2 separate regions of the Homo sapiens genome follow, and region 1 is linked to region 2. The links come from fine-mapping of genetic effects on gene expression. A gene starts in region 2. The other region holds a variant in brackets. All regions are shown on one strand. Distances are from middle to middle. Region 1 holds the start of MED10 (mediator complex subunit 10). Region 2 holds the start of LINC02145 (long intergenic non-protein coding RNA 2145).

Region 1 (15,030 bases), 45 kb after region 2:
TGCTGCACTATAGCTAGAACTTGTATCTCTGACCTTTTGGGATGGAAAACAGCCATAACTCTTTCCCTTTACTGCTTAACGAAATCTAGTGATTTACATTTGCAGTTTTGCTGCAAGAAATACTAGAATGTTCTTGCTGTTCCAAGCCAGCACCATCAGGGAGAGGCTGCTTTGCACTGGTCAAGAAAGTATGAGTCCGGGGGTTTCGTCTTAACTCTGACACTTACTAGGTAAACAACCTATTGCAGTTACTTATCAGGTCCTTCATGTGTGAAATCAGAGATGTGACCAAATCAATGCAAGAAAACCTGGATTTTAAAAATCTAAAAGCTCATTCCTGTATGTGTTCTCAGGACTATTACTAACATAGGTGCACACAACTCTCGCACAGAAAACAGTGAGCAGCCTCCCCAAACATACTTGGAATAAGAACCCTTTCTTTCCTCCTTCGACAGAGCAGATATTTTCACCTCTCAGAACTAGCACTCCACGGGCAGTTTGGGAACATCAGACCAGCTTGCTTTTCAGGTGCTTCTGGCTGCCATTTTTTAAAAATTTACAATATAGCCCTCATAGGACTTTTCACCTCTTAAGGAAAAAAGAAAGTTTTGTGGCTGTTCTTTAGCCTAAGCAGGGCTTTGAGGACCTATGATGTATTTCATATATTTAATAAGCTTTTATTTACATGTAACTTTTTTTCCACAATAGAATATTAAGGATATTCTTTTTTTTCGTTTTGTAATGCCATTAGAACGGAAGTTCCATAAGGGCAGGTATTTTTGTATTTTTGTCTATTTTTTTTTCCACTGGCACATCCCCAGCACCCAGGCTGTGCCTACCACACAGCAGGCACTCGAATGCCAGTGATGAAGAAGTCACGATACCACACCATAACTGAACAAGATTTATACCCAAGACTAATATCAAGAATGTTACTTACTCAAAAACTTCTAACGGTACAGTAATATCATGAAGCTGCTGTCTGCACTTGTCAATATCCTGTAAGCCAGTAACAATAAAATTCCTGGGGGAAAGGCAAACACACAGGCATCTGGTTAATTTCGCTTGACAGCATAAGCACCACCCACAGAGCTACCCAGCCAACCGGGGCTCCACGCAAGTTCGTTCTCCTCACAGCTATGCGGGTTACACACGGTTCTGACCTCTTTGGTTAGCTACAGGATTCCTAGGACACCGTTAGAGTTACAAAATACCCTTAAATATTTGTTACTTTCCTTCTCAACTAGAAATTGCCAGTAAGGGGGATGGAGAGGGAACCTGATGAAAAATATGAACCTTCTCTCAAAAACAATTACCTGACTGTGCATATGACTGTGTGTGCGGTTTCAGCGAACACATGAGGCAGCGGACTATACTCAAAGTCTGAGGGAAAGAAAGCCATACTGTCTGGTTTAGCTTCCTCTCCTCTCTGGAGCCTTCCTACAGCATCAGGCTGGTCTGGCTATTCCCACAGCACTAGGTATGGAACCTCGAGTGCAACATTTTCTATGTCCGTGCCACATATAAAGCCCTTCTCGAAAGTGCTGTACTTGCATTTGCCTTTTCTCCAACCCAGGGCCTAGCAACATGGGCAGCACAAGGCTGTTGCCAAGAAATAATAATAATAAACGTTCTGCAACCTTTCTCAGCACCACCTCCCCGCTATTTCCTCCACTGTCAGGCCTATGCGGCAGGTGGCTTCGGAGCCTCACCTTCTGAGGCCTAGTTTAGGGCGTGCACTCACTGTGGAGCCTGCCTCCCCTCTGGAGACAGGGACTGAATTCCCAGAAGGGCTCCAGGAGGAAAAGGCTGGGAGGGGGTTACACATGAGAGGGGAGACGCTAGAAGAGAAAGCATGATTCCCTTGATAGGGAAACGTAAAGTATATCATCTGGCCATGACGACGTCTCCAAAGGGGCCTCAAAGAGGTTGGCTCTTGGCAACAGGCTGGAGCGCGGGCCCCGCCCTCTGAACACAGCCAGGAAAGGCGCCCCGGGCTCCGGGACCAGACCAGAGGGCTGGCGGGGCACGAGTAGCGGTCAGGCTCGGCTCGGGCTCCCTAGATCCCCGCTCCCCTAGCACACGCTTCCCGGCCAGGCCCTGGGGAGACCCCGGCAGCCTCGGGCCGCCACTCACAGCTTTTGGTTGAGCCCGGCCTGGCTGCTGGGCTGGAAGTCACTGACGATGATGCCGAGCTGCCGAATGTTCTCCACGAACTTCTCCAGGTGCTCCTCTAGGTGGTCAAACTTCTCCGCCATCGCCTCGGCCCGTCCCCGACCCACACAGCCTCAACCAGCAGCGCCGCAGGCGTGGCCCTACGCTCCCGCTTCCTGCTTCCGTCCGGACAGATACGACTTCCGTTTCCTCTGGGGGAGCGCGGGCGAGCTCTTGGGGGCGGAGCCTCGTTATCGGGACGGGCGTGTTGGGGCGGGGCCTAAGTGCGGGGCAGGGCGGGCTTTCGGGGATGCGGTCTGGATTCTGGAGGAGGCCTCGGCGCGCAGCTGGGCGAGTACTAACTGTTTGCACTCTCATCAGACCTGCCTCGGTCATGGGAGAAGTTGAAGACTTTCTGCAATGCAGCATCTTCAAGCAATACACACATGGATGAAAATCCTAAAGTTTGCATGAAGGACCAATAACGGTAGTTTCCCTGCCCCTCTACCAGAACCCCTGGGATCAGCGCCTGCCTGCCTCCTTTCTTCTATGTAATCGGCGGCCACCTCCCCTAGCTCTTGCTGCTAACCATGCTTCCCGGACACCTGCTGCCTTCGTAGGTCAGGGTCTCACCTCCTCGGGCCAATTCTGACCAAACAGCACCCTGTGGGGTTGCCCTGTCTTAGTAAACTGCTGTTTATCTCATTGAAATTCAGTTTAGGTCATTTCACTCTTATGTTTAAGAAACTTTTCTGCCCGATCTCCTATGATAGCGGATATCTCCTCTAGCCTGTTTGAATTTCTCAAGTGATTTATTTTACTGAATATATTTGTGGCCTGTACTTTTCAGTGCCTAGAAACAGGCAAAGTGAGGGAGCTCCTTTGCTAGATGATCTTCAGAGCCTCTCCCAGCTGTGACCAGAAATGGAAAGCCAGAGAAGGTAAGTGACTTGCCAAACTTATGGAATCAGGGCACTCCAGTTGGTGGGCTGGGCTGATAAACAGAAATGTTACATAAAATACTTCTCTCCTGATTTAACAACAATTAACTTTAGGGAATTATAAAACAAGATGGAGGCTGGGCGTGGTGGCTCAGGCCTGTAATCCCAGAACTTTGGAAGGCCAAGGCAGGTGGATTACCTGAGGTGAGGAGTTCGAGACCGACCTGACCAATATGGAGAAACCCTGTCTCTACTAAAAATACAAAAATTAGTCAGACATGGTGGTGTGCGCCTGTAGTCCCAGCTACTTGGGAGGCTGAGACAGGAGAATTGCTTGAACCCAGGAGGCAGAGGTTGCAGTAAGCCGAGATCATGCCACTGCACTCCAGCCTGGGCAACAGAGCAAGACT[C/CA]AAAAAAAAAAAAAAAAGGTGGAAATAAAATATTAGACAAATAAAAAATTTTAAGTTATTAGGTAGAGGTAGCGACATGGAGTGAACGGCCTTTCTCAATTTCATAAGTAAGAAAGATAGATAATTGATGGAACTTAGGCTTTGGTAAGTATTTATTTTAAAAATTTAAGGGTATCTCTTTGCTAGTATATATAATTCCCAAACTAGTAGACAGGGGGAAGGGAATAAAGAAAACACAATCAACTCAATAGAAGGCAAGAAAAGAAGAGAATAAAGAAGCAAAGAACAAGCATGGAAAATAAAACTCACAACGTAAAGTGCAAAAATTAAAGGCACACGACTCAACAGCAAAAAAGCAAAAGAAGAAATTTATAAATGGGCAAAGGACCTGAACAGATACTTCTCAAAAGAAGACATAAAAATGACCAGCAAAAATGCTCAGCATCACATATCATCAGGGAAATACAAATTAAAAGCATAATGAGATGTCACCTTACACTGTTAGAAGGGCTATAATCAAAAAGACCAAAGACAATGGGTGTGGGTGAAAATGTGGAGGAAAGGGAACCCTTGTACACTGTTGATGGGAATGTAAATTAGTGCAGCCTTTATGGAAAATAGAATGGAAGTTTCCCAAAACTCTAAAAACAGAATTACCATATGATCCAGCAGTCCTACTTCTGAGTATATACTGTGAACCCTGAATATCTGAGACAGTTCTCAGTTAATTTAGAAAGTTTATTTTGCCAAGGTTGAAGACACACACTCATGACACGGCCTCAGGAGGTCCTGATGACATGAGCCCAAGGTGGTCAGGGCACAGCTTGGTTTTATACATTTTAGGGAAACATGAGACATAAATCAATATGTAAGTGTAAGGTATACACTGGTTCTGTCCAGAAAGGCGGGAAAACTCAAAGCAGGGAGGGGGCTTCCAGGTCACTGGTAGGTGAAAGACAAATAGTTACATTATTTTGAGTTTCTGATTTGCCTTTCCAAAGGAGGCAATCAGATATGCACCTATCTCAGTGAGCAAAGGGATCACTTTGAATAGAATGGGAGGCAGGTTGTCCCTGAGCATTTTCCAGCATGACTTTTCCCTTTAGCTTAGTGATTTGGGGGCCCCAAAATTTATTTTCCTTTCACAATACTCAAAGGAATTGAAATCACTATGTCAAAGAGATATCTGTGTTTCCAGAAAGAGGTCCCAGTCCAGACCCCGAGAGAGTTCTTGGATCTTGTGAAAGAAGGAATTCAGGGTGAGTCCATATAGTAAAGTAAAAGCAAGTGTATTAGTAAAATAAAGGAATAAAGAATGGCTACTCCATAGGCAGAGCGGCCCGAGGGCTACTGGTTACTTGCTGTTATGGTTATTTCTTGATTGTATGCTAAGCAAGTGGTGGCTTATTTATGCCTCCCCGTTTTAGACCATTTAGGGTAACTTCCTAACAGGTCATGGCATTTGGAAACTGTCAGGGCAGTGGTGGGAGTATAGCAGTGAGAACTCTCGTTGCCATCTTGGTTTTGGTGGGGTTTAGCTGGCTTCTTTACAGCAAACTGTTTTATCAGTGAGGTGTTTATGACCTGTATTTGGTGCCGACCTCCTATCTCATCTTGTGACTTAGAATGCCTAACCATCTGGGAATGCAGCCCAGTAGGTTTGTTTCAGCCTTATTTTACCCAGCTCCTATTCAAGATGGAGTTGCTCTGCTTCAAATGCCTCTAACATCTGTACCCCATAAAAATAGACAATTATTATTTGTTAATTAAAAATAAAATTAAAAAGTGTATCATGAACTGTGTTCCCTGTCATTAAATGTGTGCCTTCCCCACTAAAAACATACGTTAGTGAACACAGTAAATGTTAACAGATTTAACATTTAATTAATTTAATTAATTAATTAATTATTTAATTTAACATTTAACTGTTAGTCTATCCTAACAGTTAAATGTTAACAGATTTAACTGTTAGGGTAGACTCTCAGATTAGAATCCAATTGGAAGTGTTTTGTTTTGTTGTTTTAATCTAGCTATGTTGCTTTTCAAAGGTACACCTAAAACAAACTTATAGACAGGTTGAAAATAAAGAGGGAGGATAGAATAATATATGGCAGGCAACCAAAAGAAAGTTGTTAATGCATATAAAAGTTAGTAAAGAAACATTAAAAAGATGCTTTTAATGGTAAAGAGAAGACTCATTAAAGATAGAATACTATTCACCTATAAGCAACTGACAACATAGTCCCATATTATCTAGCACAAAAATTGACAAAATATGAGGAAAAATTCAAAATCCATAATTATTACAGAGGATTTGGAGTACCTCTATCAGAAAACAATAAATCAAGTAGGCCAAAAAGCATATGAAGAATATGGAAGACTTAAGTAATATATTAAGAATTGTGATCTCTGAAAAACAGTGACCCCTGAAGAATAGATTGTTTCCAAGCACATTTCAAATACTTACAAAAACTTGACCATTCCCTAGACCACAAAGAAAGTTTCAGCAAACTCAGATCCTATCACATAGACCAGATTTTCTGACCTCGTAATTCCAGTAGAAATCTATGAATTTATTCATTTTCTACACATACATACACGTTCGAAAATCAAAACACACTCTAAATAATTCATGAGTTTACATACATCTGAGAATGGGCAAGACCCAATTATGTCTGTTGTCTTCGTGTGATTATTAATAGCACTCTTCCACTCACTGTCAAACATGTCCCAGTTTGGTTGATACGTTATGTGGACATCCTATTTAAAAGGAAAATTATAAAACATTTGGAATTAAATGACAAGAATTCCCTGTCAAACTTCTGCTTTACTCCTGAGGTAATAATTTGAGGGAAAACAGCCTGGAAAAAATAAACTGGAGTTTCAACTCAAAGAGTAGGATAAAAAGAATCAAAAGGGAAATCACAGGCACCAAAAAATACATAAAAAGGGGTGACAAAAGTAAAGACAGACACTGATGAAAATGAGAACTATTGCATTAGTTTTCTGTCTAGCTGCATTCGAAGCTGGAAAGATAAAAATGAAGAAAAGTTGATTGTTGAAAAGATGAGTCAAATATATATACTTCTGGCAAGTCTCATCAGAGAAGAAGAAAAGAAAGGTGCTAAAAGAGAAAAATATACAGTATTATAAATGAGTGAGGGTGAGGGTAAAACTTATATGTTCATAATTTTGAAAGCTTAGAAGATATAAACAATTTTCTAGGAAACTACCAGAAATTAACTTAAGAAAAATAAACAATTAGAATAGTTCCTAGTCTTTCAATAAACTGGCCAGTAGGCAAAAATCTCTTTCAAAGATAGGAGAGACATAAGCTCGGACAGTTTTTTATACTAATTGTTTAAAAATCAAACATTAAAGAACAAATAATTTCAAACTTACCCAGATACATTCAGAGACTAGAAAAAGAAGAAATACATCCCAGCTCATTTTGAAAGAGCAGTATAACTTTTATATGAAAATCATCAAGGACAATACAAGAAAATATAGGTCAATCTTCCTTATGAAAGTAGATACAAAAGTCTTAAGTAAGATATTATCAGAATTAGATCAGTTGTCATGCATCAGGCATCTATTGCTGTATAGCAAACCATGCCAAAACTTAGTGGCGTAAAACAACCTCAGTCCTTCATTTTACCCACAAATCTGCATTGTGGCCTGTGCATGGCGTTCACAGCTTCTCTCTGCTCCATGTCACATGGGCTGGGGTGGCTTCACTGGAGGCTGAAGGACCTGCTTTCACAATGGCTTATTCAGCGGGGCTGTGGGCTGGCGACCACACATCCCCCCCGTGTGGGTGTGTCCCTGGGATTTGGGAGCTTCCTCCCTGATGGTGGCAGGGTGCCAAGAGCACAGAGCTCAGGAGAAGCAGGTGAAAGCAGCACCACCTCTTATGACCTTGCCTGGGAAGTCCCCCGACAGCCAGGGCACATTTAGATCCCCAGGGAGGGAACATAACCTGTCTTCCCGGTGGAAGAAGTAAGAAGTCACATTGATAGAGGAGCAGGTGAGATGAGAACTTGTTGAAGCCGTGAACCCCAAGTATCTGAGACAGACAGGTCTCAGTCAATTTAGGAAGTTTATTTGCCAAAGTTAAAGACACCTGCCTGTCACACAGCCTCAGGAGGTCCTGACAACATGGGCCCAAGGGCACAGCTTGGTTTTATACATTTTAGGGAGACGTGAGACATCAGTCAATATATGTATGTACAGTGGTTCCACCCGGAAAGGCAGGGCAACTAGAAGCAGGGAGGCAGTTTCCAGGTCATAGGTAGGTGAGAGACGAATCGTTGCATTCTTTTGAGTTCCTGATTAGCCTTTCCAAAGGAGGCAATCAGATATGCATTTATCTCAGTGAGCAGAGGGCAACTTTGAATTCTGTCTGTCCTTTGTCCACAGAGAAATTCCTTGTGAGGGAGTTATGTCGCTTTTTAATCTTAGTAGCTACGTTTTTTAGGAACAGAATGGGAGGCAGGTTCGCCCTAAGCAGTTCCCAACTTGGCTTTTCCTTTTGGCTTAGTGATTTTGGGGTCCCAAGATTTATTTTCCTTTCACAAAGCTGTTTTTGAAAAATACAACCTGTCACCCATCACATTGGGAAAAAAGTTATGATCCATTGTGCTTTTCCTAGGATTGCATGAATTATGAAATATCATAAAATCCATTATTATAACAGTCTGTTAAGGATTAAAGGAGATAAAATACCTCAGGTAGATTTTTTAAGTAGACACTGGATATTAATAAAATTGAACCCAAATCATGATTTAAAAATAAAAAAGAGGCTGGGCATGATGGCTTACATTTGTATTCCCAGCACTTTGGGAGGCTGAGGCGGGCAGATCACGAGGTCAACAGATCAAGACCATCCTGGCCAACATAGTGAAACCCCGTCTCTACTAAAAATACAAAAATTAGCTGGGCGTGGAGGCACGCACCTGTAGTCCCAGCTACTCGGGAGGCTGAGGCAGGAGAATCCCTTGAACCTGGGAGGCGGAGGCTGCAGGAGCCAAGATCGCACCACTGCACTCCAGCCTGGCGACGGAGCGAGACTCCATCTCAATAAAATAAAATTACATTAAATTAAATTAAAAAGAAACCTTTGAGAAAACTAAGAATAGAAAAGAACTTTCTAAACCTGATGAAAGATGTTTTATCTACTAAGAACATAGAGAAAGCATTAGACTCAATAATGAAACTTCAGGAACATGTTTGTTAAAGTCCTGGACACAGCCGGAAGCTTCACTGTCGTGTTCTAGGCCTCTCTCCCGGCTGCTGGTGGTTGCTGGCAGTGGTTGCTGTTCCTTGGCTGGCAGAAGCATCCCTCCTCTCCACCTCCAGCTTCACGCGGTGTTGTCCCTGTGTGTGTCTCTGTGGCCAAAATTTCCCCTTTTCATGAGGACGCCAGTCGGGTTGGATTAGAGCCCACCCTGATGACTGGAGTTTTTCACTGAATTACCTCTGTGAAGATGCCATCTCCAAATCAGGTTGCGTTTGGAGGCGCTGGAGGTCAGGACTCCAACATATCTTTTTTGAGGGGATATAACTCAACTGTAACACCCCTCCTTCTCTGCTCAAGACCAGCAGCACTCGTTGTCTGTATTGTGATCGCGGGATGTTTAATTCAGGACCAGGCCATAACGAGCATAATGATGGTGTTAGTCCCTGTGATTAACCATCAGCTACAGTTTCTAAAGCACTCATCTCCCAGTTGTCCACAATGACTACTCCAGTGAAGATTGTTCCCTGCTGAAACAAAAAGCATCCCAAGCCCACTTAAACCTACATTGAGACCGGGCACGGTGGCTCACGCCTGTAATCCCAGCATTTTGGGAGTCCGAGGTAGGCAGATCACGAGGTCAAGAGATCAAGACCATCCTGGCCAACATGGTGAAACCCCCGTCTCTACTAAAAATGCAAAAATTAGCTGGGTGTGGTGGCAGGTGCCTGTAATTCCAGCTACTTAAGAGGCTGAAGCAGGAGAATCGCTTGAACCCAAGAGGCGGAGGTTGCAGTGAGCCGAGATCGCGCCACTGCACTCCAGCCTGGAGACAGAGCGAGACTCCGTCTCAAAAAAAAAAATAAATAAACAAAAAGATAAACAAACAAAAAACCTACATTGAAATTCTTCCTTTTACTCAAACAGCTAAGTAATGGCTGCTTTCCCTTTATTTAGCAACATAATACTGTTGGCTTGTTTATAAGAAACGTTTTAACATTTCAACACTCCAGTCCCCAAATGTAAATGAAATTAGGTTGGAAAATTCCAGTAAGTCAGAAGGTCGGCCTGGTAGGAAGCCGTGTGCAGAAAGCCTACAGAGCATTGCTGACTATACGTTTTGTCGCCTTGTTTTCCCTCCGAAGTCGACATGAGCTGCCCCTAGGAAATTTCCTTACTTCTGATACTTGGTGACCTTGAAATCTGGAGGCTGTTTTTTCCCTTCTTCTTTACCTTTTTTTTTTTTTCATTCACACTATTATCGCTCCATCAGCATCCAAAGCCCTTAGTGGTATCATTTGGAACATGTTTTGCCATTCATTCTAATTTATTCTAAGAGCCAGATTCAGCTTAAGTTTAAAAAAAAAAAATGCAGCTCTCCTACCCAGAGGAAGGAACAGCTGGTTTCTGCTTCTCACTTTGAAGATTTTCAGCACATTAGTAGTTCTAGCAGAAGGGAAGATTTGCAACTCTGTTGTTTGATGATGATGGTGATGATGATGACGGTGATGATGGTGATGGTCATGATCATACTGATGACAATATCTGCCATTTTGGAACATATTTTATAGATTATAGACTGTCTCATTTATTCTTCATAACCCTAAAGGAAGCTACTATAATTTGAACCATATGTGGTCAAAAGAAAGCCAAAAAAGTATCCCTAAATACAGAATTAGGAGACAGAATAATTTCATCTGATAGAAAATGCTGACATTATTTTCCCTCAAGAGCTACATTGACACATGAATGTTCAAATAAATTAGGTTTCCCGTTCATTCTATTAGATTCACATACCAATGAGAGTGCCTGACTTGTGCAATAAAAAAATAGAAATTGTATCTTTTTTTACACTAACAAGCATTGAGAAGCCGTAAGATTTCTCTTCTCTTCTGTTTTCCTTTCTATGCAATATTTGCAGCAATGTGCAGCTCTACCTGGAATTCTGTGTGATGTATGTGATCAAATTTTTAAAAGCAAAAAGATGAGATTACACTAATACAGACTGGCATGTGATCCAATCAGCAAATGGAAGTATGCAGTTGGCTTTCACTATCAGCTTTGTTTTTTTGTTGTTGTTGTTGTTGTTTTGTTGTTTTTTTTTTTTTACAAATTGTCACAAGCTCAAAAGAGAGGGCAGGACAGCATTACAGAAATAGGGATAAGGTAAGACATCTAACTCCTTAGCAGATTATACACACAAGCATAGAAATACAAACTTTTCTAGGCTGCATAGCAACTTCACCCTCCTGGGTCTTTCGGCACACGGTGTAAGCCCTGTTATCTCATAGCGTTTTGTAAAAATTAATGACTTTCAGTTGAAGTCTAAGTTTGTCTTAAACACTCCAAAGAGAAATGAGCTATGCTCAATTTCTCTTCTCACATATGCTCTTCTCATTGTGGATGACCCAGAAAACAAAGTCTTACCTTGCAGAAAATCGTGGTGCACGCAGGCCTGGAACACCTGCTCCGGTTCTGATCAAGAAAGACAGATAACCAGGAGACTGTACAGCAGAAAGCATCTGAAAAAAGCAAAAAGAAAGCGCTTTTTCAGAAAACTAAGTAAGAATATATGAAAATTCTTCATTATGGAGGATGGAAGCTCAGAGGAGACAGGACCAACATCTGCACAACTTTGAACAAATACCTGGCTATTAATACGCAAGACAAGAGAACTGGGCTCACCTCCTTCACTTTCTAGAAGGTGGCTGTAGTTTCGTTAGTCCACGTCCTCTGAGGAGCAGATCCCAGGATGGGATTAAACAAGAACTTTCTTAGAAGAAATACATGTGACAGAAAAAGGGAACCAGCATGGCTGGAAGAACCATCAGAACAAAATGCAGGTCTGATCCCAAAAGAAGGGAGGGAGAGAGGGAGGGAAGGAAGGAGGGAGGGAGGGAGGAAACAAAGGGAGTCTAGAAGCATCTTAGACTGTGGTACAGTCCTAAGGAGAGTTTGGTAAGACCACTGAGAAGCCCCCAAACCAAAATCGCTCACCAGCAGAGTCCCCAGGAATGGACAAACCTTAGCCTTCCTGCATCACTCACTCAGTCATTGGCTGAGCAGCCCATGGAGGCAAAAAGTGCAATAGATTTCAAAGGAGAGCATTAGGGCCCTTGGTTAATTCTGCCCTTACCATCAGATATCTGAAAGATGCATTCTTGTGGGTGCCACATTAGGATAAGCAACAGTAATGATGATGATGATGATGATGATGATGATGATGATGATGCCATTTATTGACAACCTATCCAAAGTCAAGGATTGTACTAGGTATTTTACATATATTAAATATAATTATCAAAAACAATCCTCCCTAGGCTGGGTATGATTGCTCCCCATTTTCTCATGAAGAAATTGAAACTTGGGTAAATATTTTGCCAAGAAAGGGTGTAGAGTTGAGTATCTGATCCTTCAGGCATCATATTCTTACCACAGCAAACAAATGAGAGAATTTTTGCTTCTGCAATAAGAAATAGAGTTCGCTGAATTTATTAAGCTAAAAAGTTGAGTGTTTGGTGGGTTTTTTTGGGGGGGGGGTTGTTTTTACAATATAAATTTTTGTTTACAATATAAATAAATGCAGCATTCATTCTACTTAATTCATAAATGACAATGTTGGAAACTAGAGGGCCGGGCGCGGTGGCTCACGCCTGTAATCCCAGCACTTTGGGAGGCCGAGGCGGGCGGATCACGAGGTCAGGAGATCGAGACCATCCCGGCTAAAAAACGGTGAAACCCCGTCTCTACTAAAAAAATACAAAAAATTAGCCGGGCGTAGTGGCGGGCGCCTGTAGTCCCAGCTACTTGGGAGGCTGAGGCAGGAGAATGGCGTGAACCCGGGAGGCGGAGCTTGCAGTGAGCCGAGATCCCGCCACTGCACTCCAGCCTGGGCGACAGAGCGAGACTCCGTCTCAAAAAAAAAAAAAAAAAAAAAAAGAAACTAGAGCCATTGTACTTTCCCACCAAGGAGCTCATGACCACACTGAGCCCTCAGTGACCCCAAATGGCATTTCTTATGTCCCCCTGGCTGTCTAAAGTGGAGCTCAGGTATGGCCAGGAAGGGACGCAGCCCCAGTACTTCTTTGGTATATGACTTTGGCCCATTTCTAGAATTGTCTTGGTCTTCAGTGAGATGGAGCAGGGACTCCTCCTAGGGGCCTGCAGGTCACCCCCTGCCCAGTGAAGAAATAAAGAAAACTCTTAAGTTCCTTCAGGAAAAATTCCAGGCACCTAGCTCACACTGAAAAATAACTGAATAAACAAAAAGATAATAGTAGCTTAAAACAGTAGCCAAAAAAGTTAGTCAAGAGATATGTTATTCCCTATAAAAACTGAAAATAACACCTTAACATATGTCCCTGAGTTATTTTTCAAAAACCTGAACCCCCACCAAACAGATTTGCTAACACATAGACCTCAAATTAAGGGAAACTAAAAACTAAACTCTGGTCACTGTTCTTTGTTCTAAATTTCTTCCTAAGGGGCCTGGGAACGTCACACCCACAAGTTAGAGCTATCAGTTTGGTGCAAAAGTAATTGCAGGTTTTTTTTTTTTTTTTTTTTGCTGTTACTTTCAGTGGCAAAACGTGCAATTTTGCACCAACCTAATAACATTGTTTTCTGCTGATCCCACATTTTTAGACAAAGCTTTGCCTCCTTAGCCAATCACAGATCAGAAATCTTTAAATCCACCTATAACCTGTGGGCCCCCAACTTCCAGTTGTCCTACGTTTTTAGGTCAAACCAACGTATAGTCTCCATATTTGAATTTATGACTTTACTTGTAACCTCTGCCTCCACGTTGGTAAAAACCCTCACCTATGAGCCATCTGGGAGTTGGGTCTTGAACATGGGATGCCTGATTTTCCTTGCTTGGGGCCCTACATAAACGCCTCACTTTCTCTTGCTACTATCCCAACATCAGTCTTTGACTTCGCTGCACCCAGTGAACAGATCCCTGCTGGATTCACTTACATCAGATTTCTCCTCCTGGAAATAGAAGAAATGTGCCTATTGATGTGTGGAGCATCTCGCATGGCACCTGGAATGTAGAAGGCATTTGGTAAACGTGGCTTCCTTCTATCAGTTTCTACCCAAAATGTGCAAAGCCAAGCTTTCCTTTTTGTGCTGTATACTGGCTCCTTCTTCCAAAAATGTATTTGATGATGTCATTCCTCAACCTAAAACCTCCTGACATCACCCCGCTGTCTACACCAGGGATGTTAAAATCCTCTCTCTGCATAGCCCCATCCCCATGACCATGTACTCACTCTATTACCCCAATTCTCTGGGTGAGGCAGGAGGAGAGGAGTGGGTGCATGTGCCCCTGGCAGAGGGAAAGGATTCTCGGAGGGGTGAGACAAGTAGTGTGAAAAGAGTCGACCTCCAGGAAGCTGCTCTGCAGCCCTCATTTCTCCTTTGAGAATCGCTGGTCCTCAGAACAAGTTCTAAATCCTTACCACCTGATCTGATACCACCTTCCCACTGACCAGTGCCCTACAGCCTCATGGGACCCTCACCAATCCCGCCTCTTTGCCTTTGCTGGTTTCTTTTCTCTGCTTTAAAGTCTTCTTCCATACCTTCTGCTTTACTTGGGGAAATCTGAAATAAATGTCAGCATGTTGGTGAAGCTTTTGCTTACTGCCTCAGGCAGAATTAATAGCTTCCTGGTCAGCTCTGACACATCTGGGCCCTGTTCCCTCCTCAGAGGTAGAGAATCTGCTAGAGGCTGAGAACCGTCTCCACCTTTAGACAGAATGCGTTTAGTGGTTACTGCCTGCATCCCAATGAAACCTGCTCTGCCCTTCTGCCATAGAAATGGAATTGAAGCCAGACCCATTGCTACCCACTGTCTGTGTTTCCCGTTGGTATGGTTTGGCTGTGTCTTCCCACCATTCTCATCTTGGATTGTAGTTCCCATAATCCCCACGTGTCATGAGAGGGACTCGGTGGGAGGTAATTGAATCATGGGGGCAGTTTTCCCCATGCTATTCTCATGATGGTAAGTTCTCATGAGATCTGATGGTTTTATAAGGGGCTTCCCCCATCACTCGATTCTCATTCTTCTCTCTCCTGCTGTCTTGTGAAGAAGGATGTATTTGTGTCCCCTTCTGCCATGATTATAAGTTTCCCAAGGCCTCCCCAGACCTGTGGAACTGCGAGTCAATTAAACCTCTTTCCCTTATAAATTGCCCAGTCTCAGGTATGTCCTTATAGCAGTGTGAGAACAGACTAACACACCCAGGCTTCCCTGAAGTGAGCTGTGGCCTTTGCACTAAGGGATGGG
Region 2 (16,622 bases):
ATCACAGGCCCAGAGGCCTAGGAGGGAAGAATGGTTTCATGGGCCAGACCCAGGGCTCTGCTCCCCTGCACAACCTCAGGACACTGCTCCCTGCATCCCAGCTGCTCCAGCTCCAGCGGTGGCTAAAAGGGCCTCAGATATGTTTCAGAGGTGCTGCTCTGCTCCAAAGGGTGCAATCAAGAAGCCACAAAGGCTTTCACATGGCATTAAGCCTCCAGGTGTGCAGAGGGCAAGAATTGAGGCTTGGGAACCTCCACCTAGATTCCAGAGGATGTATGGAAATACCTGGTTGTCCAGCCAGAAGTCTGCTGCAGGGGCAGAGCCCTCATGGAGAACCCCTACTAGGACAGTGTGAAGGGGAAATGTGGGGTTGAAGCCCTCACACAGAGTCCCCACTGGGGTACTGCCTAGTGGAGCTGTGAAAAAAGGGCCACTGTCCTCCAGACCCCAGAATGGTAGATTGACAGCTTGCATGTGCCCTTGGAAAAGCACAGGCACTCAACACCAGCCCATAAAAGAAGCCTTGGGTGCTGTACCCTGCAAAGCCACAGGAGCAGAGCTTCCCAAGGCCTTGAGAGCCCACCCCTTGCATCAGTGTGGCCTGGGTATAAGACATGGAGTCAAAGGAGATTATTTTGGAGCTCTGAGATTTAATGACTGCCCTGCTGGGTTTCAGACTTGCATGGGGCCTGTAGCCTCTTTGTTTTGGCCAGTTTCTCACATTTGCAATGTGAACATTTATCCAATGCCTGTACCCCCATTTTCCATTGTATCTTGGAAGCAACTAACTTGTTTTTGATTTAAGAGGCTCATAGGCAGAAGGGTTTGCCTTGTCTCAGATGAGACTTTGGACTTGGATTTTTGAGTTAATGCTGGAATGAGCTAAGACTTTGAGAAACTGTTGGGAAGGCATGATTGTATTTTGAAATGTAAGAAGGACATGAGATTTGGGAGGGGCCAGGGACAGAATGATGGGGTTCAGCTCTGTGAACCAACCCAAATCTCATCTTGAATTGTAATCCCCAATGTTGGAGGAAGGGCCTGGTGGGAGGTGATTGGATTACGGGGGCAGATCTCCCTCTTGCTGTTCTCATGGTAGTAAGTTCTCATGAGAGTTGTTTGTTTAAAAGTATGTAGCACCTCCTGCTTTGCTCTTTTCTTCCTGTTACAGCCATGTAAGATGTGACTCCTTTCTTTTCACCTTCCACCATGATTGTAAGCTTCCTGAGGCCTCACCCACCATGCTTTCTGTACAGCCTGCAAAGCTGTGTGTCAATTAAACCTCTTTGCTTCATAAATTATTGTCTCAGGTAGTTCTTTATAGCCATGGGAAAACAAGCTAATACAAGCAGCATCCACCTTGGTTAATTCTTCTGCAGTAGGATCCTGACCATGGTGCCCAGGGGGATGTCAGACTTCTCAGGAGAACAAATTTATTTATTTATTTATTTGTTTGTTTTTGAGATGGGGTCTCACTCTATTGCCCAGGCTGGAGTGCAGTGGCACAATCATAGCTCACTACAGCTGACAACTTCTGGGCTCAATGGATCCCTCTGCCTCAGCCTCCTGAGTCGCTGGGACTATAGGAGGTACCACCTATATAGGCACCACCATACCTGGCTAATTTTTTTTTTATTTTTTAGAGACAGAATCTCACTATGTTGCCCAGGCTGGTCTCAAACCCTAGCCTCAAGTGATTCTCCTATCTTGGCCTCCCAGGTCATTGGGATTGCAGGTGTGAACCACCATGCTGAGCAGACATTTTAAAGAAACTTTAATTAGTCCTGAATAAACTAGGCAGAAGCCTCAGTATTTGGGTAAAGTCTGACATTTGATTCATATTAGGCCGTCAGAAGGAAACTGGACACGTACCTGTATCAGTGTCATCGCTGGATCACTAAACTTGTGAGTGTTCAGCACTCACATGGTCCAGAGACTGCCATCATATCCAATCAGCATAAAAATTCCAATAATGTGGACAAAGTATGTTACTTGGATTTATTGTCAATATCTGAATATTGATTGTCAAAATCATGTAAGTATTACAGATATGGCTTGGAGTGAAAATCTCCTAATGTTTTATGTATTAAAATTATTTTAACCAGTTGAGGTCTAAATTTGCATTTATTATCACAAAATATAATGCTGGCAGCATTAACTTCAGTAGTAGGGCCACCCAACTACCTTCACCACGAGAACTACATTAACACCTCCTCACACTGGCCATGCTCAAACCCTACCAGTGGGAAGGAGGCAAGCATTTTGCATTACTAGCATGCACACTAGGATGATCACAGAAGCAATCTATCATACTTACACTCCACCATCAGAAAATATAATGATCACATTTTTTAAAAAAATTCAAGTTTATTCTTTTATTCTAGAAATTTATCCTGTGAAGGTAACATGTAGCTGATGGTTGATTTTCAGCATTTGGTATGTTGTCATTGAGTGCATCTCTGATTTAAATGACAAATTTTATTGGTCCCTAATGACTTAGTAGTGTACTAGTGAGTAGGCCTTAATCACATGAAAAAATGAGTCTACCAAGTGGCCTTCCCCTCTTTGATAATGGCAAAGAAATGTCCCATGTTTGGGGATGGATGTCCAGCTCATGTGGCTGCCTACTGTCTACCTCTGGGCCACAGACCAGAGGCCAAGCATCGTTGTGTCCAGTGCCACCCAGGAAAGGTACTCATCTGCCTTTGTTCCAAGGAGGTCCTTTTTCTCAACAGTGTTTAAATAGTGCACACGTTTGTACATACCATAGAGCAGCAGTTCATATTGGCTGTAGATGTTGTGAAAACAATAGCCATTGAGTAGAGGCCAGGGATGTTGCCAAATATCCTACAATGCACAGAAGAGCACCCCCTCACACACACACTGCCACAACAGATAATTCTGACCCAAAATGTACATGGTGCCTAGATTGAGAAAACTTTGCACAAAAATAGTATCTTGGCCTGTCCGCCTCCTGCTCATGGGACTTCAGTTCAAAGAGAACTGAAATGCAGCTTTAATAAAAGCCTTTGTCTCTGAGCCATGAGTGTTGTGGAAACTGGGGCCAGCTGAGGTGTGTACTTGCAAGTAGGATAAAAACTCAGACCTGCATACTTCCCAACATCCCTCTACAGACAGCTGCAGCCTATTGGATCTGATCTATTGATGTCCACAACCTGGGATACCTAGATGTGCTAAAAGAGCAACTATAGCACGACAAGGCTTCCAGCTGGGTGAGCGGGAGGAAAACAAGAAAAGAGCTTTGTGTCCAGGGTACATCCACCCAGCCAGCCTCACATATCACATTTGCTGGGGATCTGGATGGTGGCAGGGCTCTCACAGCTGAGGAGCAGTCCACAGTGCAGGAAGGAATTCTGTTACAACTCACTCCAAAGCTGATAAACAGCCAGACAAAACTGAAGCTGTAGCTGCCCTGTGTGACTGCATCAGCCTGTGGAAGCCATCAAAACAATTCAATAACTCAATGACATAGTCCTAGTTCCAATTCATCTTTCTAGCAGGCATCTGTTTCTATTATATTTGAACTGTGCAGAGGAAATTGGATAAGGCATGCTAGCACGGGACACTGCAAGCTGCAGCAACCACATGCCCAGCAGCGGGAGCGGGAGGATAGAAGACAGGAGGAGAGAAGCCAGGTACTGAATCTCAATCAGAAGCAGCTTAAAGGTCAGACTCTGAAATTTCCTTCAGAGCCCATCAAAGCCTACCTGTAATTTCCACAACAAAGTAACCCAAAGCCATTTCTTGGTGACCCCCAGTGTCAGGGTACTCACCCCTCATTCACAGACAGACAGCCCTCAGTGGTAGAGTAACAGCATCAATTCTTCTCCCCATCTGTTTCCACTCACTGGCTCTGCCCAGCCAGCCAAGAGTCAAAGCCTTAGGCATTGGAGCATGGATTCATGGTCAGGTTCCACTCCTTGGTTGAAATTAAGGGTAACTTAAGTTCTATGGGTGGAACTGGCTGGAGGGAAGACAATAATTTGGCAAATGACAAGTGCTCCAAGGGGACCCGTGATACATTCTATCTAGGTCAGGGGTGGGCAAACCATTCCCCATGGGCCAAATGTGGCCACTTCCACTCACTGACCCATCTTCTGTGGCTGCTTTCACATTTCAATAGCAGAGCTGAGTAGCTGCAACAGGACCGCATGGCTGGCAAATATTTACTCTCTGGCCCCTTCCAGGAAAAGTGGCCAGCTCCTACTCTAGAGACCAGACTTCTAAGAAAAAAGTGAATCTTCAGGATGCAGATTTTCAGTAGCATACATGGGAGGACTTGAGAAAGAAAGGAACAGGCATGGAGATACTGAAGCCCCCTCTTCACAATGGTGAGTGACAGCTCATAGTCTCAGGAGTAATTGGTTGATAGAGGCAGACTCTAAGGCAATGAGATAGAAGGAAGAATATTTTTGATGAAGGGGCAGATGGAGGAACCTTTCCTAGTGTAGGAGAATCCCTCAGCAGAAGAGAAGCAGCGCCCATACCTGCATGGGGTGGAAAGAAAGGAGCAGGAGCCCCCAACAGCAACTAGGAGAACCACAGAGAAGCCAAAGAGAAGCTAAGAACTTGATCTTGTCTTGAATTTCTGTAGCATCTGAGACACTAGAGTTCAGTCCTGCATTAAGCTCAGGGTTTTCCAAACCAGTCAGTCCACACGGCCTTTCCACCTGGTAGCTGCCATTTCCATCCAGGCCCTGGAATTCATGAGGTTACCCTTTGGAGAATGCTGCATTCAACCTACCCACTCCCTTTACAGATTGGACAAACCCCCTTGACACCGTACCTCCGTGTGAACATCACACAGCAATTCATGGAAAGCGTGCACCCATTAGCAGGATGGGAGAGGCTGGAAACCAGCCCTGGCACATTCAAGATGCCCTCCTATGGGAGGAAGAATTGCAACAGCATTTTGTGCTCTGAATGCCCAGTCTATAGGAAGATGAACAGAATGTGCACTAAATATTTAGGCATCTGAGCTGTGGTAGCTCATGGCAGGAAGCCACGCTCACCTCCCAGGACCTGATTCTGCCATAATACACTGTCCCAGAACCACTATAGATCACCTCACCACTGGCTGAGGAAGACAAAGACAGGAGCTGAGTGTAGATGGGCAGCAGGCTCATCCTTGTCTCCCTTCTGCTGGCTGATGCACACCTTGTCCAGCTTGCTTAAGACACATGCTCCAACACCTGTCATTGTCAGGCATTAGATTCGTGGCCATGCCTGCTGTGCCCACCAAGCTGCCAGCACCACATGGCTGCTGCTCACTGGTGTGCGGTGTGTGCCCAGCCTGAGGGCCAGGCGAGCTCAGGACACAGACCTCCCAGTGCCAGCACATAGGAAGGCCCTGGTAGCTGGCCAGGGAGGCCTAAGCTCACTTCAGTCATCAGACACGAAGTTCCATTCTCTAAGGATATCATCTGGGAGGAGGTGAAGCCTTTCTGTCTTGAAGGTTGGGTCTACCTCCAGGTGTGAAGGAAGGACATTTCATATACAGGGGAAAGAGGTATTGGCCAAGAAATATGGAGCCCAGATTCAAAGGGGGACAGAGACCCCATCTCTTGATGGAAGGAGGGTCAAGGAATTTTAGAAACTTATTTTCCCCAAACTTCTAGAGTTGTTGACACCAGTTGTTTATTTGTCACATTGCTTATTTATTCACTTACTTATTCTTTAAAAGTTATTTTAAGCATAATTAAAGATATAATTCATCTCAGACTATTATCACGAGATTATTGTCTTATTATTACCTTCCACACTCCAAAGCCACCACCCTTGGATGACATAAATATCCAATGACTATTTATCAGAACCATAGGCATTTTTATCTACCTGTCACCTTGCAGGGTCAACATTTACAAACACGTCGTTATTACAGGAACACAGAATAAGATAATGATCTTATTATCAAGACCACAGATAATAATCGTGGCTCGTTGAAGCCCTTTGAACCCAACAGCTGTGGGCCCATCTGGAGCTAGTGGCCTTACTTCTCTAGATCAGATTTGCACACTTTGAAAACTGCAGCAGTTAGGAAGCTGCAGCATCCCACAGGGGGAAGCAGCTCAACAGCCAGAGCTGGGCTGAGAAGCGGGTATCTGGAAGCTTGCTCCTTAATGCCTCCTGAGGAAGCGCTGGGCACACACCTGGCACAGCCCACATGCAAGAGTTAGCACCACCCGCACACATAGTGCTCAGCTGTTCCTTTGGCAGCACTGTTGTTAGCAATGTGTGACCGCATTGGGAGGGGGTCTGAGTACCATGGAGGTGACTGAGATGCTCTGTACCTCTGTTACTTAGCACAGTGCAGGGCAGGAAGCAGGAAACTCAACAGATGTCTATTCAATGATTGATGGGCAGCTGCCAAGCAACTTCCAGAGTAGGGGGTCCCATGATGCAGATCCCTCCTCCCCACCCACTCCATGTCAGCCTTATTTCAGGCCTCACAACATCCCACTTGAAATATTAACTGAGCTCTTGGCCTCAGTCATCGTGTTCTCCTGTCACCACTGCACCATCTCAAAGTGGCCCTTCCTACCCCACTAGGCTTCCCACTGCCCCGCACACAGCCAAAGCCCTGCCCTCACAGCCTGGCCCTCCAGATGTCTGCAGCCTGGGCCCCATCTGTCTTCAGACTTCGCTTCCCATAAAGTTTCCTCATCTGGCTTTTGGTTTTGTTTCACAAATAAGCCACACACACATGCACACACAAAGAGGTACATGCACACACAAAGAGGTACATGCACACATGTGCAAACATCTGTGACCACAGACCCAGATGCCAGCACACACGTGCACACACACTCATGCTTCCAGGTGCAAATACACATACATACACACACACACACACACACACACCAGCTCCATACTTTAAACCTCTTTCCCCTGTATATGAAATGTCCTTCCTTCACACCTGGAGGTAGACCCAACCTTCAAGACAGAAAGGCTCCACCTCCTCCCAGATGATCTTCTTCCCAAGTTGCAATTGAGTTCTCCCTCCCCATTTCTCTATACAGCGGCAACAGACTCACCATCACGATACCATTGCCGTCTTCTCTCAATGCAGGTGCCGTCCATGCTGTGAGTCCCTGGAGAGCAGCAGGGATACTTTTTACAGCTTTTTCGATGCTCACTTACGGCCCCCAGCAGAGAGCACCTCAGCAGGTGCTCCAAGAACGATGTTGCCTTGGAAAGGTAGCGAGGCCCTGAAACACAGAGAATAAGGGCAAAGTCTGGGCTGCTCTCAGAGCCTCAGGGCCCTGCCACCCCAAAGTCCTAGGACAGGGAGCGTGTCCTCTAACTTTTCTCTCTCCCTGCACTTTATCTCCACCAGGAATTCTCAACCTTTTTTGTTCTAATAGAGCTCTCTTCAACCGCCTGAAAAAGTTCCTAATCCTTTTATAAAATATTGTCTTAAAATGCACATAATAGGCTGGGCACAGTGGCTCCTGCCTGTAATCCCAACACTATGGGAAGCCGAGGCAGGTGGATCACTTGATGTCAGGAATTCGAGACCAGCCTGGCCAATATGGTGAAACCCCGTCTCTACTAAAAATACAAAAATAAGCCAGGCATGGTGGTGCACGCCTGTAATCCCAGCTACTCAGGAGGCTGAGGCAAGGAGAATCACTTGAACCAGGGAGGCGGAGGTTGCAGTGAGCGGAGATCATGCCATTGAACTCCAGCCTGGGCAACAGAGTGAGACTCCATCTCAAAAAAAAAAAAAAAAGAAATGCACAAAATAAATATTACAAAGGGCCTGAGTGATGCTGAAATCCAGCTCTGCGTTCACACTTGAGTTGGGGGATGGCAGGTTCCCCAGCACCGTGTGCTCCCAGGTTCCCAGCAAATGTGAGCTCACTCTCCCTGGAGCCCTTGCCCTGGGTCCTGATCACCAGCCCCCTCTGGTTGATCTTCCCTCAGGTAGGAAGTAGCCCTGAGGAGGGGGAGCACAGAGGAGTTGTGGGCAGGGGTGCAGAAGGAGAAAATATGTTGAGGACAACAGCATCAGAGGCCAAAGGCAGACTCTGGCTGCTGGTCTGCACAGACCACCATCTATGGGTTGCAGAATCTGGGTGGACACGTAAGGAGAGGAGGGAAAAGAGAGAGAAAAAAAAAACTGTCACAGGCAAGCACAAAGAGTAGCTGCCCTCAATTAGGGCTAGTAAAGAATTGTTCCCACTGCACGGGGTTTTCCAACTGCAATCTTTGGGCTTGTGAAGCATTTTCTCTGCATCTGTTGTTGATGCCATTAAGTAGAATGAGTCACTGTATATATTAAGCACTAAGACCAGCAGCGACATAAGTCTATGAATTCAATGATCATGCCAGCTTTAAGTAGAAAAGGAGCTTTTTTTTTTTTATTAAACCAGTGGCAAAGCAGAGGAAATCAAGTAATTTTTACATTATAAGATTTTTGCTTTTTTTTATACTGTGTCTATTTCCTTTTAATGACAGTTATCAAAAGTCACTTTTGGGAAAAGGCTTTGAAATTGAATAGAAAAATCTCATGCATTTACTTTTCCTGTTTTTCTGAAATTCAAATAAGATGTGAGCGACAGGCGCTGAGTGCTCCAGCCCCCATGCTCAGCAATCGCAAGCTTTCTTCAGACCTCTCTTTGCAAGCTCGGGAGGAGACCAGAGAGGTTCCTTAGGAGGATCCCTGGCTGGAATCTAGGCCAGGAAGCCAACAGCAAAATGTGTTTGGGGTGAGCATCTGTGTTTGGGGCCTTCTGGCATGGTAACACTCTGACCTGGGGTGTTCGACATCACTTGTGCTCTCAGCACAGCTTCCAGAACAAGCCAATGGCCCCAACAAAGGACAAAGGGTCCAGAACCATGTGACCAGAAAAGGAAGACAGCCAGGTGTATTTGACAGCTCCCAGAATGACCTGGCCAGACACTCAGAAGGCCACGGAAGCTTCGCTCAGGCATGCTGCCAGTGTGTGTTTATGTCCCAAACCCTCACACAGCATTTGCTACCTGACTGGCCTTTGGCAAAGGGCTTTAGAGATGTTCCCCCAAGTCCCACATGGCACAGAGGGCAGGTGCGCATGCTGTGACAATTTCACAGGTGAGGAAAGGGAGGCCCAGGGAGCTTACAGAGCTCATGAGAGGTGCAGCCAGGATGTGAGCCCAGCCAGCTGGCCCCACAGCCTGTGCCCATGTGTGACAGGTGCCCCTCTGCCCCTTTCGTGGGGTCACATTGCCTAGTTGCATCAGAAACTTAACCCAACCTTACAGCTTGGTGTGTGGGTGGGCAGTGGAGGGTGGTGCAGGCGGCATCTCCTTACCTCTGATGCAGCATCCACCAGAAAAGCTGCAGAGAGTGTGGAAGGCAGAACAGTACTTCCAAAAAAAAACTAAAAACATCCAAGTCCTGATCTCCAGACCTGTGCCTATGTTAGGTAACGTGGCAAGGCGACACTGAGGTTGCAGATGGAATCAGCAGGCCTTGAAAGAGGGCACTTGTCCTGGATGGTCTTCATGTCCTCAGTGTAATCACAAAACTCCTCAAAAGTGAAAAGAGGGTCAGGGTCAGAGGAAGATATGACTATGGAGAAAGGCACAGAGAAACGCACACTGCCAGCTCTGAAGACAGAAGGGTCCACAAGCCACTAGCCGAGGAAAGCAGGAGCCTCTAGAAGCTGGGAAAGGCAAGGACCAGATATTCCCCTGGAGCTACAGAAGGGACCCGCCCTATCGACACCTCCACTTTAACCCAGGGGGACAGTGCCGGGCTTCCAACCTCAGGACTGTAAAACAATAAAATTGTGAGCCGGTGTGGTGGTTCATGCCTGTAATCCCAGCACTTTGGGAGGCCAAGGCAGGTGGATTACTTGAGTTCAGGGGTCTGAAACCAGCCTGTGCAACACAGTGAAACCCTTGTCTCTACAAAAAGTACAAAAATCAGACGTGTGTGGTGGCGTATGCCTGTGGTCCCGGCTACTCAAGGGGCTGAGGTGGGAGGATTGCTTGAGCCCAGGAAGTAGAGGCTGTAATAAGCCAAGATATCACTACTACACTCCAGCCTGCGCAACAGAGCAAGACCCTGTCTAAAAAAAATAAATAAATGAATAAATTTTTAAAAATAAAATTGTATTGTTAAGCTGCTAGTAAGTGGATCAGTCAGTATTCAAGCCAGGTGGTGTTAAGCATTGTGTCCCTGGGATGAGTCATCATTCATAATCATTGATGAAAGTTTTAAATGTTAAGTATAACTTGGAATGATTCTACTGTATTGTTAATAACTTACAGTTATCATGAATCACTAGGCCAAAATATGCTATTGTTAGGAGAAAAAATTTCACCTCTACCACTTGGGTCCCATGCTTGGGGGCCTGCAAATTAACTGAAGATAGATTAACAGGAGAAAAGGCAAGGTTTATTTACATGTGCACGTGGGAGTTGCTCAGCCATAAGTAACTTGCAGAATAATGTGAAGGTTTATATGAGGGGACAGTGCATGTCCTTGCACCTTCACTTTGGACTTGACCACATGATTTGTTCCAAGCAATGGGATGCACATAAAGTGACAGTGTGCCAGATACAAGCAGAGGCTTTAAAAGGCATCATTTGCTTCTGCTGTCCTTCCTGACTTCTACCTTGCACCCTGAGGAAAGCATGCCCCAGGGTGTAACTTCTCTGCCAGCCTGGGTCCTGGGTGAGAAGAAGGGTGGCCCAAAGGAGTCCAGCCAAGAGGAGCAGCTTAGAAGCTGCAGCCAGCCTCAGACCCCAGAGTGAGAAACAAACATTTGCAGTTGCAAGCTACAGAGATGTCTGGACTACCTGTTACTGCGGCAGAAGCTAACTACCACAAGAACACGTAGATTTTTGGCCTAAGCAACAGTGAGGATGATGGTGCAACTTGCTAATTTGAGTTGCAGCAAGTGGGGTGGGAAGGGGGAAATTAAGATTTCATTTTAGAATACACTTAGCAAATAGCAACACCTCCCATGCTATGAAGGATAAGATACAAGACACAACTTTCATACTCCTTGCATTTGGAGAATAATACAATTATTTGTATTTGGAATTTAATATCCCAAATAAACATTCATATCCTTTACACTCAACCTGTTCATTGTCAAACATTTTGTTCCCTGAAATTGCTTAATTCACATTTATTCAAAAAGAAAGTGCATTTGGAGTTAAAACTAGTTTTACCCAAGAGGGTCTAAAGAGCTTAAAAATAGAAATGGGATTATGCCAGGATGAAACCCATTAACAACTCAGCTGAGTGAGGTCAGTGGGGGAGTGAGCCTAGGAGCTCCAAGTAGGGAAGAGAGCCCCCATCATCATACCCGGATCATCAGGAGAAATGACATCCACATGGATGGCACACTCTAAAGACAGCCAAGGGAAACTTTGCCAAAAAAGCAGAAGATTTTTTTTTCTTTTTCATCAAGATAATGCCACTTTAACCAAGAAAAGGAACAGATTTTGTTTGAAAACCCTAACTGGATATTTGGTTATTAATAATGTTATATCATATTAATACTTTTATATCATTTTCATTCACCATCTACCATATTTCCCATGTAATGATATAATCTTCATAACTAGAATTTTAATGGCTGCCCAATGAATAGCTATATCATAATGTTGGGGGTTTTTTGTTTGTTTGTTTTGTTTTGTTTTTTCAGATGGAGTCTCACTCTTTCACCCCAGCTGGAGTGCAGTGGCACAGTCTTGACTCACTGCAACCTCCACTCCTGAGGTTCAAGCAATTCCCCTTCCTCAGCCACTTAAGTAGCTGGGATTACAGGCACCCACCACCAAGCCCAACTAATTTTTGTATTTTTAGTAGAGACGGGTTTCATCATGTTGGCCAGGCTGGTCTCGAACTCCTGACCTCGTTGTCCATTCACCTCTGCCTCCCAAAGTGCTGAGATTACAGGCGTGAGCCACTGCACCTGGCCGTGTATTTTTAATTTATCTTATTTTGTAACTTAGCTTTTTCTACCAAAAAATAGGCATTCATGAAAAGTTGTTAAATATACATTAAGTGAGGAAAGCAAGACATGCTGGATAATATCCTTTGCATTATGTCATTAGCCCATTTATATGCTGGAGGTTGCAAATTTTTTTGTGAAAAATCAGACCACAGCGATGACCTTGAGCAGTAGGATACAAATAACTCCCACAAGCTTAGCATTCCAATAATGGAACACTAGCCATAAATGGGTTAAGATTACAGACAATACATTTTGTGTATGAATATACTTATATTCATTCTGGACAGATTAATGTTAAATTATAAGCGAGGTGAGTCTATAGAAATTATTATTTTAGTTACTAATTTCTACATCATTTATTTATGATGAGCATGTAGTTATTCTGTAATTTAAAAACAACAAAAACAAGATATTTACCAATAAGTAATAGAAGAAATGATTCATTCCAGAAAGGCTTGAGGAAAAGATCTTGACGCTAAAGTACTGTAGCTAAAACATATTGAAATAGGGCTGGAAGAGAGTGGCATCATTAGCGAGGCTTTCAGTCCACACACAATGAAGAACCCAGCCCCAGCTTACATCTTCCAGTCCGGCAGAGCTCCTGACAGCTTAACACATACTTCAGAATGTTTATTATACTTTAATATGGATACTGTATTCATATTTTATGTTCTTCTATTGTTTCTAAGTATAGCCTGGATAAACAAGTCACAGAGTAGACACATAAAAGCACACAGCTAAATTCACATTTTCTCTTAATGTTAGAAACCACAGATGCATTAAAAAGGATCATTAGGGACAGAGGTGCACTTTGATGTTTTGATCTAACCCGTTTTCACATTCAAAGGATGCTTCGAGTGTTATTCAGAAGTACATAATTGTGCTGAGAGCAAAAAGCACTTAGTGTCAGCTGAACACTCGCTCAAAGGCTCAGTTGGCAATACACGAGGATGTGTTGGAGGATGCATTGACTTGGGCCCTTCTGAGCTCCGTGGAGAGCTGGTGGGAGACAGCTACGGGGCGCCGGCACTGGTGAGGTCCAGACGGGTGCCTCCTGCGTTCTGCGCCAGGCATGGCGAGGGGCATCTCCTTGCCACCTCCTCTTTGTTTGCCTCCACCTCTTGCCCCTCCCCACCACCCCATTTCCATTCCTTCACAGGAAAAGCTAGAGGCACAGAGATGTGTTTAGTCCTGTGGTGGATGAACTCATCTCAGAACGCCAGCTGCACCATCTTCACGCAAGGGTTTACAATTCTATCCACTTTCACAGTGCCTTTGGTATTTGAGCTTGGATGAAACCAAAAGGTCACCAAAAGCTTCAGGAGGAACTGCTGAATTTCACTGATGGCTGAGTCAAAAATCTCCAAATTTAGCCCGGCTGATCTCCCTCTCCAAATGCTGATTCACGAGGCTTCGATGCTTGATGCTTCCAACACGGCTGGCTAGCAGGGGAAGTTTGAACACAGTCTGAAACCTTGCAAGCTTCTGCCTCATTTCAAGGCCTGAGTATATCCGAGTTTCCCCTGAATAATTAAATGGAGTGCTCAGACTGGCATGGGGCCGTGGCTCTATTTATTCTGATGGAATCTCCAAGACCAGGTCACATTCAAGATAGCGCACTGTCAGTGTGTGCCTGCCAGGCCGCCTAGCCCTGAGGCTCTGCAGTTTTCTTTTAGCTTTACAGTCTCTCATAGATTGAGGCAGTTTTGTGAATCGCTGCTTAAAAAAGAAATCCCGTTTAAGGTTGATTCAAAAAATGGATCTTCTATTTGGTGCCTTAACACTTGAAGTCAATACAGGTTGAGCATCCCTAATCCAAAAATTTGAAATCCAAAATGTTCTCAAATCAGAACCTTTTTGAGTGGGGACGTGATGTCTACAGAGCTCATGACACAGGTGTCTTTGGAAGCCCTGCCATGACTGTCAGCCCCACCACAGTCATCAGGGGCTCTCTCAGTGAAACATGGATGCTGGAGCCACACCCAGGGGCCGTCGCCTTGGGTGTTTGCAGGCAGCAGAAGCCAGCAGCCAGGGGAGAGTCACTGCACTGGGGCACGGGGTCTGTGGTGACGTCACCACTCCTAGCCATCAGTACTTTGTGGGTTTGGGCCCTGTAGGGTCCACTTCTGGGTTCCAGGAGGTGGGCAGGTCCACCAAGAAAGCAGGGAATGGATGTTGGCACCACAGTTTGCAACCTCGTTGGAAATAAAAAGCTCCAAAGAATCAATTAGAGAAAAACTCAGCATAAAATGAATGCTAAAAGTTGGAATTAAGAGAATTAGCAAGTGAGACAAGACAAAAAACAGGAGGTTGATTACGCAACAAGAACCAGCTCTGTGAAGATCTTGGCCTCATTCAATAACAGAAAGAAAAACTACGGCACGGGGAAGCCACTTGGTTTTCCCAGAATCCAACAATGACTGGGCTTCTGGGCCAACCCCAGAACACAAAGCTCCTGACTCAGGCGCCCTGTGACCCACTCAACGTGAAAGGGAACCCTCCGGCTGTTGTCTGGATAATTGCTTTTTCAAAAACGCCCACTGGATAAATCCAGATAATTAAGCCCCCCAAAAAGTGTGCTTTTCTTCGTGAATTATCGACATAATTGCCTTAGTTTTCACTTGGTTTTGCATATGCACTATAGCCTCACCTCTCCTTTGCATGGTCAGCATGAAGCAAGTTGATAATCTGCATTCCACACATATTGAGCTACTATCATATGTATGAGGCAGCATGATTGGTGTGATGAGGAATTGTAAACAAAAGTCCTAAGTAATAAGCACAGGCAAGTGGCCTGCCTTCAGAAGCTCACAGTCTGCTCCACACATATTCTTAGGAGAAGGAAACTCATAAGATAAAGCAAGGCGGGATGACTAGAGAAAGGCAGGGTGGACGAAGGAGGGAGACAGGAGGAGGGACATGATGCAGAGACGGCTTTGTTGGGAGGGCCCTGGAGGGTTTCGGCTGAAGGGAGAGGAGTAGAGCATGGGCAGCTATCCAAGAGTGACATGCTGCCCAGTTTCAAACCTGGGCTGTAGCACTTGCAAGCTGGGTGACTCAGTCACTTCACCTCTCTAGGTCTCAGTTTCCCATCTGTAAAATATTTTCTTTGTTAGGTTATTTTGAGGACTCAATGAGCTGCTATCTGCAAATCATTTCCAAGGTGCCACCAGTGTGGAAAGTACCCATGTGATTGTGAATGACCAACCTCAGGTCTTGGAGGGGTGGAAATGGCAGTCATTCTGAACTTTGAGCAGGGTGTGCCCATTCACCACTGCCTCCACTACCTGTCACTTATCTGCAGAATAGAGGGAAGCCAGGGGGATAAGCAGCCACACGTTCCCAGGAGTGGCATCAGTCAGCCCTGACCTAGCACTGGGGCCTGGGAATATCATAAAATCACAAATAAGAAAGATGTGACAAGGGAAAAATTAACAGGCCATCACGACTGACCTGGTACCCAAGGAGTGAGGTGGCAGACACAGATGACCTTCCACTAGGAACGGGGGAAGAGCAGCAGAGAACAGAGGAGGAGGGAGGCACCTCCACTCTGCTGAGCCAAGGTCTTGCGTGGACCTCTGGGAGGAAACCCACTAGCCTGTTGGAGAAGGGAGAGCAGATGTGGTTTCAGGAGGTGGCAAGATAGAGCTATATGGAAGATGGATGCTCCAAGGAAAAGATTTTAGGAAGGGTGGTGGGCTAAGGCGTGGAGAACCAGGGAAAAGAGGTTCTGTCAAGCTGCAGAGGACACTGGTTCTTGGGGACAACAGATATGGCAACTGGAAGAAGCCCAGCACTCTCCATAGAGCCCACATCTCCAGCATATTCATCACTCCATGTGAAATATGGAAACACGACAGAACTCCAGATGACGGCCTGTACTGGGGAGGAGTCCGAAATCCCATGCTCCAAAAGTGGCGCAAGACACAGGTCATGACGGTGAATCTGTGGGTACACAGGAGGGGATCAGCCAGGGCTGGCTGGCCTTGCAGGCATCTTGGAATATCTCTCATGCCTTCTTTTTTGACCAGTTACTCAATCTGCAAATCCACAAGCAGGACCATGGCTCTTTGTAGCCCTATGGGTGCTTGGCATGCATGTTAAATGGACCAGTTATAGCCAAGATGACACTTCTGAAGGGTGGGGCTGCCCCAGCTATGTGAAGCCCCTAGAGATGAAGAATAAAGAGGGCTGGCTGCACACAGAGAAGAAAAACACCACCCAGGAACCTCAGTTACTTTGCCCTTCTGCCTTCTGAACGGAAGCCGCCAGTTCTGCCAGGCAACATGCTGTTTCCCCTGAGTCTTTTTTTTTCACTTCAGAAACTATGGGAGATACATGTAAACACTCTAAATGTATAGGCTCATTTTCCAGTAAGTACAAAAGTGGATGGGTGGGTGGATGGATGGATGGATGGATCGGTTAATGGAAGAAAGGAAGGGTGAGAGGAGGGAAGGAAGGAGGAAAGGAAGGAGGGAGGGAGAGAAGGAGGGAGGAGGAAAGGGAAAGATATGCTGTATAGTAAACTTTCCAATCTAATTGAACCCAAAACTTACAATAACTTCAGTTTCCCAACTGTGAAATTAAACTGCTTCTTTCTATAGGCTTTATCTTTGCCTTATAAAATTTGGTTTAGATAAA

What was found.
Region 1: its variant is fine-mapped to the expression of LINC02145 in subcutaneous fat (FUSION, PIP 0.95).

What each region holds. Positions count from the first base shown.
Region 1 is chr5:6,376,226-6,391,255 of GRCh38, forward strand. It overlaps MED10 (mediator complex subunit 10), which reads right to left and starts at 2,322. Exons shown (of 4, transcript NM_032286.3): 1 at 2,137-2,322; 2 at 941-1,024. The coding sequence starts at 2,258. RefSeq lists enhancers at 2,057-2,266, 2,557-2,776. The variant C/CA (reference allele first, on the strand shown) is at 3,506.
Region 2 is chr5:6,330,095-6,346,716 of GRCh38, forward strand. LINC02145 (long intergenic non-protein coding RNA 2145) reads right to left here and starts at 7,198. Exons shown (of 2, transcript NR_028351.1): 1 at 7,056-7,198. RefSeq lists an enhancer at 12,952-13,452.